Regions from separate parts of the Homo sapiens genome. Here region 1 is linked to region 2. Evidence: fine-mapped expression QTL. Tissue or cell type: testis. Region 2 holds a variant in brackets; the other region holds the start of a gene. All regions are shown on one strand. Distances are between the middles of the regions.

Region 1 (8,180 bases), 19 kb after region 2:
GATGTTTTCATTTAATGGCAACCTAAACCAAACCTAAGACAATCCTACTCCAAGCCACGACATAAACAGCGCTGACACATGCTTTCAGTTCACAACTTCATCATCAGCATTCGTATTTTCTTTTTTTCTTTCTTTTTTTTTTTTTTGAGACAGTGTCTTGCTCTGTCGTACAGGCTGGAGGGCAGTGGCACGATCTCGGCTCACTGCAACCTCCATCTCCCGGGTTTAAGCGATTCTCCTGCCTCAGCCTCCCAAGTAGCTGGGACTACAGGTACCTGCCACCATGCCTGGTTAATTTTTGCATTTTTAGTAGAGATGGGGTTTCACCATACTGGCCAGGCTGGTCTCGAACTCCTGACCTCGTGATCTGCCTGCCTCGGCCTCCCAAAGTGCTGGGATTACAGGCATGAGCCACCACACCCGGCCACCATTCATATTTTCTTAACAGCTTACTTGATATCAAGACATGACTTTCATCGTCTTGTCCTGATAAGGAAAGAAGAGAAATACACATAGCAGGTAAAGAATGTGCCGGACCCAAATGAAGGCCAATCCCGTAACAAGAAAGCTCCAGAGCTCTTCAGAGAAATTTGGGCGGATTAAGTAGTCACTTGGAACAGAGTAATGGGAGAATCAGAAGTATCTTGGCCAGGAGTAGAGATTTTGTTCCAGCAAAATAAAACTTTAGAATTAATATTTTAAGTGGAATGTTATTGATTATAGTTTTGTATTCAGTCTGTTCACTTCCTTTTGTTTTATTGCTTATATGTAGCATGAGCAAGTGCTATTTATACCAGGTTTGCATTTGTATGCATGTAAATAATAACATAATTTAACTCTCACTGGCTAGACTATTTTTTCCTTTAAGAAGAATGCATACTTGTTCAAGTTTGAGAAACGCCAGACTAGGATTTCTGAAGGTCCTTCCAAGCACTGTTCCTTGCTACAGCTCTGCTGTAAACATGATGCCAGGCTCCCAAATCTCATCAGTCCTTCCATCATGCGCCACTGCACCTACGATAAAAATCCCAGCTCCTAAGCAGGGCCCTCTGTGTCCTGTGGGATCTGTCCTGCAGTTCCTCATCCCCACGTGAACCATCTCTCAGTCACTGCACACCCCCACGCTGTGCCCCGCCGCCACACCCCCGCCACACACACACACTGCTCGCCGCCCCTCAATCAGCTCCTCTCAGCGAAATCACTTCCTTGGAGACTCCTTCCCACACCCCACCAAACAAGAGCAGCCTCCCCCTTACAATCTCCCACCACATCCTGTACTGTCCTTCACAGGAATGTTGAGCTGAAACTATGTAATTATTAGTGAGATGATACAACCATGCCCACAAAGGCAAGGTCTAGGACTGTCCGGTCCTGTCCTGGACACAGTACTGGCACACAACCAGTACCTTCTGCCAGCCCTGACAATGGTCAACAGCCACTCCAACCCCTAACACACAGTCAGCTGCCCGCTGAAGTCTGAGATGAGAGAAACCTCTCTCAAAGTCCAGGACCAGTGTGTGAACTGAACAAGGCTCCAGGTGATCTTTAGAGCTACTTGCTCTGTGACTTTGGACAAGTTTCTTACCCTCTCTATGATTCTATAATTGTCTATAAAATGGGGATAATAGCACCTAACTGTAGCAAGCTGAATAATTATTTCCCCGAAAAGATGTCCCCATTCTAATCCCCAGAATCTTGTATGGCAAAAGGGACTGTGCAGATGATTAAATTAAGGATCTTGCTGTGGGGAGGTTATCCTGGATTACCTGGGTGGGCCCAATGTCATCACAGGGTCCTTATGAGAGGGAGGTAGTAGAACTGGTCAAAGAAGTCAAAGTGACAACAGATGCAGAACGGAATGACACACTTCAGAGCTGGAAGAAGGGGCCTCTGCAAGCTGGAGAAGGCAAGGAAATAAATTCTCCCTGGAGCCTCCAAAAGGAATGTAGCCCTGCAGACACCTCGATTTTAGGACTTCCAACCTCCAGAACCATAAGAGAACAAACTTGTGCTATTTTAAACCACCACATTTATTACGCAGTAACAGGAAACACAGGACCTGAAAATACGTTTTTGTGAGCATTAAATTTGTTGACGTGTGAACACTGAAAAGCATCTAGCACACAGTGAGCACTGAAATGTGTTAGCTGGGATGATTTTGACTTTGCTGTTCCTCACATAGATAGTTGGCAAAGTAATCTTTCTCTAAAACACACATCCCATCACAAACTCCCCTGTTTAGAATCTTTCAGAGCTCCCCACAGCACAAAACGGAAAACCCCCTCAGTGAGGCACACAGCTTCTTACCCAGTCCCTTCTTACCAAGTGGTGGAGGGAATCTTCCCATACCGCTCCCCCACAACCACCTACCTTGAATCACACAGAACTACATCTTGTCTATTGACTGTCTATGCCCCCTGCTCAAATGAGAATTCCATGAAGCTAAGAAGAGGCCACAGCACACAACAGCCATCAGTACCCATTTGTCTAGTAAATGAGTGATTTGCACCCTGCATCAGGCTGACCACACCTGGCTCTCATTCTTCTCAGATCCATTTGGGACTAGACTACTCAGCCCCTGACATCATCCTGAGTGTCCACTGACTTGACACCATCATTCTTCTGCTAAAACCCCCAGCTGCTGTTCACAGCAAGGGTGAGCCACCGGCCTCCTGGATCCTCCTGCACGTCCCTCCTCATTCTAACTACCCTTAAATTCCCTCAGTGCCTAGAAAGTCAGGCTTTCCCACTTCTGGACCCTTCCAAATGCTGCTGCCTCTATCTGAAATACCCTCTTTCACCTGGCTAACACCTCCTCTTCCCTCGGGTCTCTGCTGGAAGCTCCTTGAGGCTGGAAATGGTCTATCTTGTCTCCTGCAGTATCCCTGGGACCTTGCAGTACCAGGCATCTGCTGGTGCATGGCTCTCTGCTCTTGAATCCTGGCTTGGCCCCAGCCTGGGGGCTCTGCCTGGGTGTTCTCAGCCCTGACCCCAGCATCTCCTGATCAGCACCTCGGCCAGCCAAATAGGCATCAGTCATGACCTGAACCATGATCCCTCCTTTACCTGGGCCCCAGACCCCTGGCTGGCCAGCACTTATTCCAGCTGTCCCAAATCAGGATCTGTCACTTCTGCCAGTGGAAACAGGAAAAGCATTGACATGGACCCATGTTAAACAAAAAAGATGACAGGAGTAACAGGGTTACTCATTGAGACATGCGTACTGACAGCATCCTTACATTCCCCTTCAATTAAACTTTGTCAAATGCATTTGGAGCGGAACAGACTTCCGTATTTAAAAAGGTATTGCAAAAAAAGAAGGCAGGGCCACAGAGGGGGCCAGAAACCAGGCACAGGGGACTCGGGCAGCTCCTCCTCTCCAGTCCATGCAGCTTCGGGCCAGCTACCCAGTGTTCTCCCAATTGGGGCTCTGACTCATGCATTAGCAGGTGATGAAATAAATTCAATGTTTCACATTCTGGGTAATTTTTAAAAGTAACAGAGGCCAGGCGGAGTGGCTCACGCCTGTAATCCCAGTAGTTTGGGAGGCAGAGGAGGGCAGATCACTTGAGGCCAGGAGTTCCAGACCAGCCTGGCCAACATGGTGAAACCCTGCCTCTACTAGAAATTAAAAAAAAAAAAAAATTAGCCAGGCGTGTTGGTACATGCCTGTAATCTCAGCTACTCGGGAGGCTGAGGCACCAGAATCGCTTGAACCCAGGAGGCGGAGGTTGCAGTGAGCTAAGAGCACGCCACTGCACTCTAACCTGGGCGATAGAGGTCTCAAAAAAAAAAAAAAACAAAGGGAAGTAACAGAAAATATCAGAGTGCCATGGACATGTTCAGAAAACTTTTGTTTCAACTGATACATATGTTCTGGGTCACAAGGGAAAATGCATTGCTTCCTATGGGCTAAGATTAAACGTTTTGGAAAATGCTGAGTTAGGCTAACCCTTATCTTCTATTCATTTTTCCTTCCTATATCAAAGAATTCTCCATGTTAGTTTTGCCCTGTAAGTTGCTCCTGGGTTTATGTATAGTCACTAGAACTCTAGATATGGAGATGCTGCTTTATAAACCAGAATAGGCCAGCCAGCCAGGGTCAGAGACCTCTCACTCAGATAATACAAACCGCGGGATCAGCTTGGCAAGTAGGTGACTGGTTTGGGGGAAATCTTAAGACTCCACACCCCTGGCCAGGTCTGTGGCTCCTCCTCCACTTCTAAATTGAGTGTGCCAAGCTACAGGGCTCGTGGGCTGCACCCACATCCGTGCCGCTTAAAGGGACCTGGGCCACACCCGGCTGGCACAAGGGGTGCATGGCCTGGGCCCTTCAGAAGCAAGTGTCGCTGTCTTGGGAACATCATGTAACCTCATCTGTCACTTTCCGTTCGCATTCTCTTCTCCCAGCACGGGCCCCTGGGCCGACCTTGAAGAAGCAGCCAGCCCTGAGAACCTGGGTCGGAGAGGTGGGGTCCTGCATGCTGGGAGCGAGACGCGGGCACACTGGGCTCTGGCAGGCAGGAGGGGCGGGAGCCGCAGAGCCAAGGGATTCCGGGTTCCAGACCCGGCTCGGCCGCCTCGTGCAAATCGCTGCTCTTACCCGAAAGTCGTGGGCAGTGTCCTTCACCGGCTGCACGCGGTGCCCCTGGTGTCGGGGGTCGGCCTGGCAGGAGCAGCACAGCAGCTCCTTGTCCTCGAGGCAGAAGAGGCTGAGCTGTCCGCGGTGCAGGCGGCAGACACGCGAGAAGCGGTAGCTGGTCCAGCGCGCGCCCTCGGCCTCCTCGCGCAGCAGCTTCTCCACCAGGTTGTTGAGGGTGTGGTTGGTGCGCAGGTCGGCGGGTGACGCGCGGTCTTTGCACACTGGGCAGGTGGGCGACACCTGCACCTCCCAGCAGCGGCTCACGCACCCGCGGCAGAAGTTGTGGCCGCAGCGCAGAGTGACTGCGTCGCGGAAGGGGTCGTAGCAGACGGCGCAGAGCAACTCCTCCTTGAAGGAGCGGGAAGGCCCGGGGGACACGTCGGGACTCCGCTCCATGGCACGAGCAGCCGGCTCGGGCGCCCGGAACTTTTGCTCCGGCCCCTCCCACCCGCCCGGCTGCCAACGCCCGCGACCCGAGTGCTGGGAATCGCCCAGTCCCTTCCCCTGGAACGCTGAGAGACAGCGGCGCTGGCCAATCGTGCGGGGGGGATGGCGAGGGGGAGGGAGGGGGCGCTCGGAGGAGCCCCACCCACTTCCGGTGTGCGCGGGAAATCTTGGGAGAGCGGGGTGGGCCTTCTGCCCGCAGTTCCCGCCTCCTCAGGTCCGGGCGGGTCCCTGGCCGGGGTAGCACGGAAGGGTCTCCCAGGCGGCGTAGTAGGGCTTCCGTGTTACTGGAAACCTACTTCCGGCTGCAAATGGGAAAAGGAGCCTCTACCTTAACCAATCCCCGGGAACCTCAGGCCCGCGGATGGGAGAAACCAGAGATGCCAACTTCCTGCTTCCGAAGTAGTGGCTGGGTCTTAAAGCACCGTGAGTGCAATCACCACTTAAGTTTGCAGCGCCTTTTTGAGGACCTATGCCACTCTTGCATTAGTCGTTTACTTATTTTGGCCAGTCTTCTTCTGGCCCGCCGCGGTAAGGAGAAACAAGAGAGGGGTGGCGGCAGAAGAGCTCCGAGAAAACCTGATTCTTGTCCTGTGGTTGAAAAAGTGAACAGGTCATCATGTTTCAAAGTCCATTTACTCATGAGTACAATGGCTGTAATAGCTCTGTTTCCATGAAGTGTGAGGATAAAGTGAAATAAATGTGGAAAGTGCTCATGACAACCACTGTTTTAATGGGCAAGTGCCCATTAAAACAGTGAAATTGAGGACTTCTGCAAAGTTTAGCTGAGATAACTAGAGTTCATGCTCAATTCTTGCCAGGTACAGTAGGCCTGGATGGTTCCTTCAGATCTTCATTCCTGCTTCAGTTTGATCACTTTACAGCCTCCAGATGCAGAATACTTTTCACACGATGCACTTTCATTCCTTTTCTATTGGGAGACAATTCACATGTGTCATGTTCCTGCATGTCTTGAGAGAGCAGAGGCACTGACTGCCTTTTTCCAACTATCTTTTCAAGGATGTTTCTGCATTGAATAGCCCTGGAAGACAGAATTCTTGTCTCTCCAAAGATCTGGCAGACTTATTCCCAATTATAAGAGATGTGAGTTTCCTAAACTTGGGGCCCCTCTCCTGTAATGCAACCTACTGTAGCCTTCATCACATAGTCTTGCAAGAATTAGGGCTCAGAAACTGGCCCAATGACAATACTGTGACTACTATTATTGCTGTTAGTATTATCCTTTGTCTCTGACCCAGGAGTTTCATCTTTTAGCAGTATTCATGAAATTTTGGCATGCAAACTTGTTAGTGTTGAAACTCAGAAAACAATACCCCAAAATGGCCTCAAAAGCAGAAATTTTTCTCTGCCCTCCTATCTCTCAGTCCCCCAAGGATAGCCATAGAAATTAGAATTCCTTTTCCCCAAGGCAGGTCATAGAAACCAGAACCCCTTTTTCCTAAAGCCAGTCTTGAAACCTTAAAATATTACTCTTTCTCTCTGCCTTTCTGTGGAATAACTGGCCATAAAGAAATTATCTGACCTACCTTGTTTGACTGTAGGCCATAAGAGCCCGATTCCAGAGAGGGTCCTACCCCATACCTGTTAGGGGTAGAAGGTGTCTGAGTTAACAGCAGTGAATCTGTATGGGTCTGCAGCAACCTCAATTCTTGCCTCCTTGGAAGAAAGAATTAGACTGAGGGGCATGATATGGTTTGGCTGTGTCCCCACCCCAAATCTCATCTTGAATTGTAATCCCCATAATTCCCACGTGTCAAGGGAGAGACCAGGTGGAGGTAATTGAATCACAGGGGTGGTTTTCCCCCCATGCTGTTCTCCTGATAGTGAGTGAGTTCTCACGAGATCTGATGGTTTTATAAGTGTTTGGTAATTCCTCCTGTGTTCATTCTCCTTCCTGCAGCCTTGCAAAGGAGGTGTCTTGCTTCACCTTCACCTTCCACTGTGATTGTAAGTTTTCTGAGGCCTCGCCAGCCATGCGGAACTGTGAGTCAATTAAACCTCTTTCCTTTATAAATTACCCAGTCAGTCTAAGGCAGTTCTTTATAGCAATGTGAAAATGGACTAATACAGGGCATAAGGCAGAAAAAGCAACTGAGGCAAGTTTCAGAGCAAGAGTGGAAGTTTATTAAAAAGTTTGGGACAGAAAAGAAAGTACACTTGGAAGAGACCCAAGCGGGCAACTTGAGGGACAAGTGTGGCATTTAACCCTGATCCTGGGACTTCATATGCTGGCCCACTTCTGGAGTCTTGCTGCCCTCTCCCTTCATTCTTCCCTCAGTGTGAGCTGCCCGAATGCACAGTGCCCTCCCTATGCTTGGGAGGTGAGCATGCACCATGTGCTTAGGAATTTGTACACATGCCCATCTGAGGCTTTCTTCCCTTTTCCAGTGGAATGCCCCCGGAAGGTCATACTCCACTATTTTGTCTCTTAATGTGCATGCCCAAGCTCACTCACCCAATTTCTGAAATTTTATTGGAAGCTGATTACCAATCTCAAGTGTTTTTATCTGTTTGGGAAATTGCCTATGCCTGGCACCTGCTTTAATATCAATTAACATCAAGTAACACTTTAGTGACAGCTGTGGACCATCAGGGAATTGTCTCTCTCCCTCTCTCTGGCCCATCTGCCAAATTATCCATTTTAGAAAGGCAGTGTGATAACTGTGAAACCATCACCTGGCATTCTTGCTTGAGGGGATTGGGGAGGGTAGAGTCCTCTCCTGCCCTGCTCATGCCTGTCTAACTACCTGTAACATACCTGGAAGGAAGAAATGCATGTTCGTAGAGGCCAAGAAAAATCTAGACAGACAGGCCTAGGTTCCCCACTCAGTTTATTAACATTAGCTCATACCCTTTTGTTCAATCATATTTCTACACAGCTACTCATACTTTGCTGAACCTAAGCATGAAAATGAGCCATTTCCAGTCTATCTTTAGGTCTTCATTCTGAAGGCTCCCATGTCACATAAAACTATGATCAGGCCAGGCATGGCGGATCGGGCCAGGTGCCAGTGGTGGCTCACACCTGTAACCCCAGCACTTTGGGAGGTCGAAGAAGGCCTTGAGCTCACAA
Region 2 (8,180 bases):
TCCTATGGAAACCAACTAATCCGGAGCGATGGCGCCAGCTGCCTCCTTCACATGGCTCTCCCAGGGCTGTCACACCCCAGGCCAACATTCACCTGTCCTGACTATCCCGGGGCCAGGTATCAGACAAAAAGGGCAGCCCCTATCCTGAGAGCCACTGAAATTACTCAAGCCAGCTACCCTTAAACCTGTCTCCCCTGCTTACTCTGCCTTGCCCATTTCCTCCTGAGGAAACCAGAGGAAGTCTCTTGCCCACACGTTCCCCTCCCTCCTTCCGCCTTCTGACCCACCGTGGGGCTTTCCTATGTGGCCCCTCCTCTCAGAACCGTAAGTAACAAACTCTCCTTTCCATGGCAGTCCCCTCCTCATCCAATGGCTTTACCACACCTCGATGAGATGGTTTACAACAGGCCCATTCTAGAAGTAAACATTATTCCCAGAAATCCTGGAATAGGGATTCAGAAAATTCACATTGTGGAGGTGCCACGACTCGGGAGAGCCTGGCCAGCGAGGTGCCACCCGAATAGCTCCTGACCATGGGCACAGAAGGGACCAAACATGGAGAGAGGCACAGCCTGGAGTCATGGAAAAGGACCAGGCAGGACAGGAGGAAGAGCCTGGCAAGGAGGCAGGGGCGCAATAGTGCCCAAGCAGTGTGGGCATTAGGAAGAGGGCAGAAAGAAAACAGTGCTGTGGCACAAGACCGGGGCAGCCCCGGGCCAGCTCAGCCATCCAGTTCTTCCTTGACACTGATGTGCAAGGGGCAGATGCGCAAAGGCTCTGGAGGCCCGGCGCCCCGTGCACCCCCCAGGTAGAAGTAGGGGCGAACCTCCCCAAAGCGGGCGTGGAAGGTGTACAGGTGGCAGTGGCGCTCCGCGTCATAGAAAGACAGCTCGCCCTCCTCACACTCCAGCTCCACACGCAGGCGGCGTGGGATGGCCAGGACCAGGGGCGACGTGGCTGGGTCCGAGGTCACGCAGTGGTCCCCCTCCACGCCCTGCGTGCGGCAGACATACCAGAAGCCCGAGCGTGTGTCGTGGTAGCAGCTGTGTGAGTGGCCCTCAGCGCCCGAGTCCTGGCGCACACGTACCACGCCCACCCTCCAGCTCTGCAGCCCCCCAAGGGCCACCTCCCAGGCGTGCGAGCCCTGTGAGAAGACACGGGAGCCCAGCAGGCAGGGCGCCGAGGAGAAGCGTTCCGGGTTCTCCACCTGCACGCGGTAGCCATGGTTGGTGACGCTGGTGAGGTCGTCAGACACGGAGAGCCAGCCAGCTGCGGTGTTGGGGTCAAAGCTGAAGGGTACTGCAAGCAGAGGCGGAAATGGGGAATCAGCAAACCTGAGGTCCCTTAGGCCACACGTGGATATCTCCAGCCCCACAAACCAACCACTGTGTCACACCTGGCCCCAAGTCCATGCAAGGAGTGGCCCAGGGCTGGAGTGGTGGCAGGGGTTGGGCTGTATCCCCCAGAAGATATGCGGCAGTCCCAACCCCTGGTACCTCCGAGTGTGACCTTATTTGGGAATGGGGTGGTTGTACACATATTAGTTAAGATGAAGACTGGAGGAGGGTCCCCAATCCAATATGACCTGTGTCCTTAAAATAAAGAGGAGACAGACACAGATACACAGGGGAGAATGCTGTGTGATGGCGGAGGTGAGGATCAAAGTGCTGAGGGGGAGCCAATAAGGCCAAGAATGGCCAGGAGACACCAGGAGACGGAAGAGGAAATGAAGACTCTCCTCTACAGGTTTCAGAGGGGGCCTGGTCCTTCCAACATCTGGATTTTGGATTTCTACCCTCCAGAACTGTGAGAGAGTCAACTTCTGTCATTTTCTAGTTTGTGGTCCTTCGTTATGGCAGCCACAGGAACTCATACAGGCAGAGACTCTTAACACTCACACGACCAAGGGATGTTAGGACAGCACGGCCCATTCCCTGAGTCAGTGATATTCCTCCCCGTAAAACCAGGACACTGTGGCTCATGTGGGCTGCAGTCGCCTTAGGAGAGGCAAGCCCAGATGCAGGAGGTCTTTTATCATACAAAACACAGTTCTGAATAGGCAAGAAAGCCAGTTTCCCTCTCTGAAGAAGGGACCAAGTGTCAGGACCCTGAGAGAAGGCATTCTACCAGGAGGGTTGGAGGTGTTGGGCAGAGTGGAAAAGACCAGGGTACAGGAACCTGCCTGCGAGGGACTGGCAGAGGGATCAGCTGAGAGAGGAGGGGAGCTCTGAGGAGGTGGGAGGTGGGCCCGGCAGAGACCAGCCCTGGTGCCTCTTTGCTAACATGAAGGGCTTCCACCCATGCTTGGGACACCTGCCGGCACCCCCGCTCACCAGATTCCACAGATGCAAGCATCTTCTTCCAGACGCGGTACTGCAGGGAGCCCAGGTACTTGCAGACATCGATAAGCATGCCGGGCTGGACTGGCTCTGGCTCCATGGTGCAGAAGAGTCTGGAAAAGTACAATGGGTATGGTGGGCAGGGCCAGAGCCATGCAACCTGGGCCGAACTGGGCCAACTGGAAACCAGCAACAGGACTTGTTCCCTTCCCTCAGGCCCAAGTTTCCTGGCCACCTTCTCCAAGACAAGACTGGACTGGGCTACGATGGGAGATGGGCCAAGGCCAACAGGGCTGCCATCTCCCTTCAGCATTCAATCCGAGGGCTCACCCTGCCCCAACTAGGAGAAATACAAACAGGAGGTTCTCCAACATGGCTGCCATCCTTGCAGGCAGAAATCACACTTACACATCCGGCTCATGGGATGTCTGAGTTGGAAGGGACCCTAAGGATGCTCTAGTCCAACAATCCCAAGGTGTCCTCCAGCCTTTGCTTGCACACTGCCAGTGGGAAGTGAGCACAGGGAACTCACTCCCTCCAAAAGCACTCTATTCCATCTTTGCACAGCTCTGACTGGGACACAGCTCTTCCTCATTCATCCCTGTGAACCCAACAACCATCAACACAAACCACCATGGCCTAAGGCTCTCAGAGGGAGGGGGCTGATCAAGAAACAAGCCTGACATTGACTGGCCCCGAGAAATGCAAGCCACATGCAGGATAGTGTTCTCCTTCCCTGCACGGCAGGTGGGGACCCTCCACACTCAGGAGAACAACACTGCCCCAGAGCCAACTTGAACTGGATGCTGTGAGAGGGCTCTCTCCACCTGGCCATTGTCCACCTCTCCCTCTAAAACCAGGGCCAGTAGCTCATGTGTGCTGGTGCACCCAGCTGGTTGTTACCTGCTTGCCCCGGGGCCACTGGAGTTTGCACCCCTGGTATTTCTGCCCACTCTTCCCCTCCCCTCCACCAGCTTTGGCAACTTACCGGCGTTTTCGGCTCTTGTGTTTCTGAAAAAATAAAAATAAAAAAATAACACAGAGACACAGATGTAGAGGAAATGTATATGTTTCTGACCTCAAAAGAAGTCATGCATTCCATGGATCATAAGTCTTAATATTGTCAAGATGTTAACAATAACATCCCTGCTATGATTTGAACATATTATCCAAAAGTTCATGTGTTGAACACTGAATCCCCAATGCGACAGTGTTGGGAGGAAAGGCCTAAAAAGAGGTGATTGGGTCATGAGG[G/A]CAGAGCCCTCACAAATGGATTAATACCGTTATTGTGAAGTGGTTTAGTTGTCATGAGACTGGGTTGCTATAAAGCAATGAGCAACTACTCTGTCTTGCACTCATTTCCTCCTTCTGCCATGAGATGACCCACACCAAATGCCAGAGCCATCATGCTCCTGGACTTCCTGGCCTCACCCAGAACACTGAGCTGAATAAACTTGTATTGTTTTATAATTTACCCAGTCTGTGATATTCTGTCATAGCAACAGAAAACATAAGAAGAGACTCCTTAAGTTGATCTACTGATTCAGTGCAATCCCTTATCCTAGCTGGCTTCTTTGCAGAAACTAAAAAACTGATCCTAAAATTCACACAAAATTTCAAGGAACCCAGAATAGCCAAAACCATCTTGAAAAAGAAGAACATTGGAAGACTCATAATCTCCAATTTCAAGACTTACTACAAATCAACAGTAATCAAGATAGTATGGTACTAATATAAAAACAGGCACTGAGATCAATGGAATAGAATTGAAAGTCCAGAAATAAACCCTCATATTTACCATCAATCAATTATTTACAATAGTGCCAAGATGATTTAATGGAGGAATAGTCTTTCCAACAAATGGTACTGGGAAAACTGTATGTTGACATGCAAAAAAAAAAAAAAAAAAAAAGTGAAGTTGGACTAACCCTTACTATACCATATACAAAAAAAAAACTCAAAATGCATCAAAGACCTACATGAAGAGCTAAAACCGATAAAAAACTTGTATCTAGACTATATAAAGAACTCTTACAACTCAACAATAAAAAGACAACCCACATTAAAAATGGGCAAAGGATGTGAATAGACATTTGTCCAAGGAAGATCTACTAATGATCAAAAAGCCCATGAAAAGATGTTCCAAGTCATTAGCCATCAGGGATGTGATGACATGCAATACACAAGGAGATACCACTTCACACCTACAAGGATGGTTATAATTTTTAAAAAACAAATTTTGGCAAAAATATGGAGAAACTGGAATCCACATACACTCCTGATGGGAATATAAAATGATACAGTTGCTCTGAATAATGGCCTAGCAGTTCTTCCAATAGTTAAACCTAGAGTTACCATTTGATCCAGCAAATCTACTCCCAGACATATTTCCAAGAAAAATGAAAACATGTCCACATAAAAATTGCTACCTGAATGTTTATAGTCATATTATTCATAATAGCCAAAATAGAAACAACCCAAATGACCACTGTCTTAGTTCATTTTGTGTTGCTGTAACAAAATACCACAGACTGGGTAATTTATAAACAATAGTTTATTTCACTCGTGGTTCTGAAGCTGGAAAGTCCAAGAGCATGGCACCAGCATCTGATGAGAGCCCTCATGCTGTGTCATCCCATGGCAGAAGGAAGAAGGGCAAGAGACTACACATAAGACCAAGAGCAAGAGAGCAAGAGGGGCCCAAACTCACTTTTATAACAAGCCCACTCTCTCAATAACTAACCCACTCTGCCAGTAACAACATTAACCCATTCATGAGGGCTCTCATGACCCAATCACTTCTTATTAGGCTCCACCACCCAACACTGTTGCATTGGGGATTAAGTTTGTAACACATAAATTTTGGGGAACATATTTAAACCACAGCAACCACCAATTGATAAATCAATCAATAAAATATAATATAGCCATGTGCAACGTAACGATGTTTCAGTCAACAAGGAACCACATATATGACTATGGTATGGTCCCATGAGATTATATCACTGTTTTTTACTGTACTTTTTCTATGTTTAGATATACAAATACTTAACAGTGGGCTCCAGTTGCCTACAGTATTCAGTGCAGCAACGTGCTGTACAGGTTTGTAGCCTAGGAGCAAAAGGCTATTCCATATAATCTAGGTGTGCAGTAGGCTACACCATGTAGGCTTCTGTAAGCACACTCCATGACACTTGCATAATGAAGAAACTGCCTAATAATACATTTCTCAGAACATATCCCCATCACTAAGAAGTGCATGATTATATATCTATGCCATGGAATATTATTCAGCCATAAAAAAGAATGAAGTACTGATAGATGCTACAACATGAATGATGTTTCAAAATATGCTGACTGAAAGAAGGCAGTCACAAAAGGTTACATGTTATATAATTCCATGCATTTGAAATGTCTACAACAGGTAAATCCATATAGATAGTATGTAGACTAGTGGTTGCCAGGGGCTGCTAATTCTAGTAATTACCACTCTGTTAGACTCAATTTCGGTAGCAGTTTTTATGTGGGAGGAGGAACTGGGGAGTGACAGCTAAAGCAGGGCTGCTTTTGGAGGCATGAAATGTTCTAAAATTGTCGTGATGGTTGCACAACTCTGTATATACTAAAAATCACTGAGTGGTACATTTTAAATGGGTGAATTGTTTAGCATGTAAATTATATCTCAATAAAGTTGTTAATAAAAAATAAAAAAGAGTCACAAACCAAAATCATCCCTGAAAGCACTCTGAGTACTGGGCAGACAATACTCCCAATTCCCTAAACAGAATCCTCGAGACACACAGCTTTTAGATCCCACAAAATGATTTTTCTTTTTCTTTTTTTTTTTTCTTCATTTTTCTTTTTAGAGACAGCTCTGAACACAGAATGATTTCATAATCAGGGACATTTTTGAGACAGGAGACTTCATGGTTCCAGGCTTTGAGTGAGGTGGAGAACTCCTAAAGGACCCACCCAGGAGATGACACTGCCTGAACAGATAACTGTCCCTGTCGCCTCCCACTCCACTCTACAGCGACACCCCTTCCACAGCAGTCAGCTGTTTTCCAGGTACAAGAGACACCTCACCACCCTGGCCAGTTTACAGACCAGCTTTCGAGCCCAGAAATTTCCCTGTAGGAAATTTGTAAGGACCACTGGCTCATGGGGAGGAAATAAATCAATAAAAGGAAAAAAAAATGAATAATACTGTTTTTTTAAAGAGAGAATGGAATCATCCTTTTCTTAAGAAGACAGAAAGCCAAGGCATTATATTTAAATAAAAAATTTAAATAATTGAATGATTTTAAAAGAATTCATCTTATTAAAAGGTAGAGACCGGAAAAAAAATGAGAGTAAGAGAGAGGGCAAGAGAAAGGAAGAAAGAAGAGACAGGAGCTGGGCACAGTGGTGCGCCAGTAGTCCAACTACCTGGGAGGCCAAGGTGGAAGCATCACTTGAGGCCAGGGATTCAAGACCAGCTTGGGCAACATAGTGAGACCCCCCTCACCCCTACCTGACTGGTAAAAAATGAAAAAAATTAGTTGGGCATGGTGGCTCGTGCCTGTAGTCCCAGCTACTCAGGAGGCTAAGGAGAGAGGATCACTTGAGCCCATGAGTTTGAGGTTACACTGAGCTATAATCACCCACTGTACTCCAGCCTGGGTGATACAGCAAGACCCTGTCTCTAAAAAAAAGAAGAGCGAGGAAGAAATAACAGGGTTTCAAGGAACTCCGCCCTGATAAGTCTTTTTAGTTTCATGACACAAGCAGAGCAGGTTACTTGTGAGCTCCTCCAGGCCAGTACCCAGGAAGCTCCAGGAAGATGACGTTGGCCAGGGCTGGTGGGCTATGGCTCCCAGCTGGTCCTGGAACATGTGGCCCTGTCACTGAATCCAGACGCTGAGCTCCTTACCATGAGAAAAGAAACGTCGTCCTCCTTCATCTCCATCTGCAGCCGCTCGATCTCATGTGCCAGCACCTCCGTCTCCTCTGTGAGCTGCTTCATCTTCTCGTCGGCCAGAAGTTGCTTCTGCCTTGTCTCCTCGGCCATGGCATCCAGAATGGCCTGCTCCTCCACTCTCAAGAACTCGCGAAGCTTATCAAACTCCTGCCGGATCCGGCCTTCCAGCCATGCAGCCTCCACCTACGGAAGACAGCAGGAGGAGTCAGGGGTCAGATGTGGAGAGGACATCCATAGCCCAGCAACTTTCCCATTTTTAGCAAAGGAAATTTATGTTCAAATAAATCATGTATAGAACCCCTACAGATAAAATATCAACATAATAGTTTATAAGCACAAATTTCTAAGTTCCGATTTCAAATGGGAAAGTCCAACAACCTAATATTAGATTGTTTTGACAGGGTTTTTAAAAATAAAATCACAGCTTATATAGATGGCAACTGTAGTACTATAACCTCATCTACATACAATGTTCAGTTCCTTCTTTAGGTTGCACCATAACAAGGGAAGTCCTGAATCATAGAAATGAATGGCTGCGAATAGCAATGATTTTTTTTTAAGTATTTACCTTCCAATCTTAGGACTTAAAATTTGTCTGATCCAGAGGCTTTACCAAAAGAGCAGTAGGAAGCATTCATTTTAAAACAATCATTAAAATAATATACACACTCCAAATCACAACCACAAAAAGTTTGTTTTTTTTTTTCTTTTTGAGACTAAGTCTCGCTCTTTCACCTAGGCTGGAGTGCAGTGGTGTGATCTTGGCTCACTGCAACCTCTGCCTCCTGGGTTCAAGCAATTTTCCCTGCCTCAGCCTCCCGAGTAGCTGGGACTACAGGCACACGCCACCACGCCCAGCTAATTTTTGTATTTTTTAGTAG

Which allele goes with the higher level. Alleles are on the strand shown, and positions count from the first base shown. SD is a standard deviation of normalised expression in the study named.
For the expression in testis of the gene that starts at base 5,075 in region 1, A is the low allele of the variant in region 2 and G is the other (small effect, 0.22 SD a copy in GTEx).

The links. PIP is the estimated chance that this variant, and not a neighbour inherited with it, causes the effect.
Region 1: it holds the start of TRIM35, and the variant in region 2 is fine-mapped to the expression of TRIM35 in testis (GTEx, PIP above 0.99).

The regions. Positions count from the first base shown.
Region 1 is chr8:27,306,198-27,314,377 of GRCh38, forward strand. It overlaps TRIM35 (tripartite motif containing 35), which reads right to left and starts at 5,075. Exons shown (of 6, transcript NM_171982.5): 1 at 4,604-5,075. The coding sequence starts at 5,038. It also overlaps a transcript of PTK2B not described here. RefSeq lists enhancers at 4,044-4,153, 4,554-4,773, 4,784-4,933 and a silencer at 5,084-5,293.
Region 2 is chr8:27,286,829-27,295,008 of GRCh38, forward strand. It overlaps TRIM35 (tripartite motif containing 35), which reads right to left. Exons shown (of 6, transcript NM_171982.5): 3 at 7,252-7,482; 4 at 3,328-3,350; 5 at 2,334-2,452; 6 at 1-1,299. The coding sequence ends at 722. Among named protein-coding and RNA genes, the nearest start is that of TRIM35, 20 kb to the right of the region's middle. The variant G/A (reference allele first, on the strand shown) is at 3,594.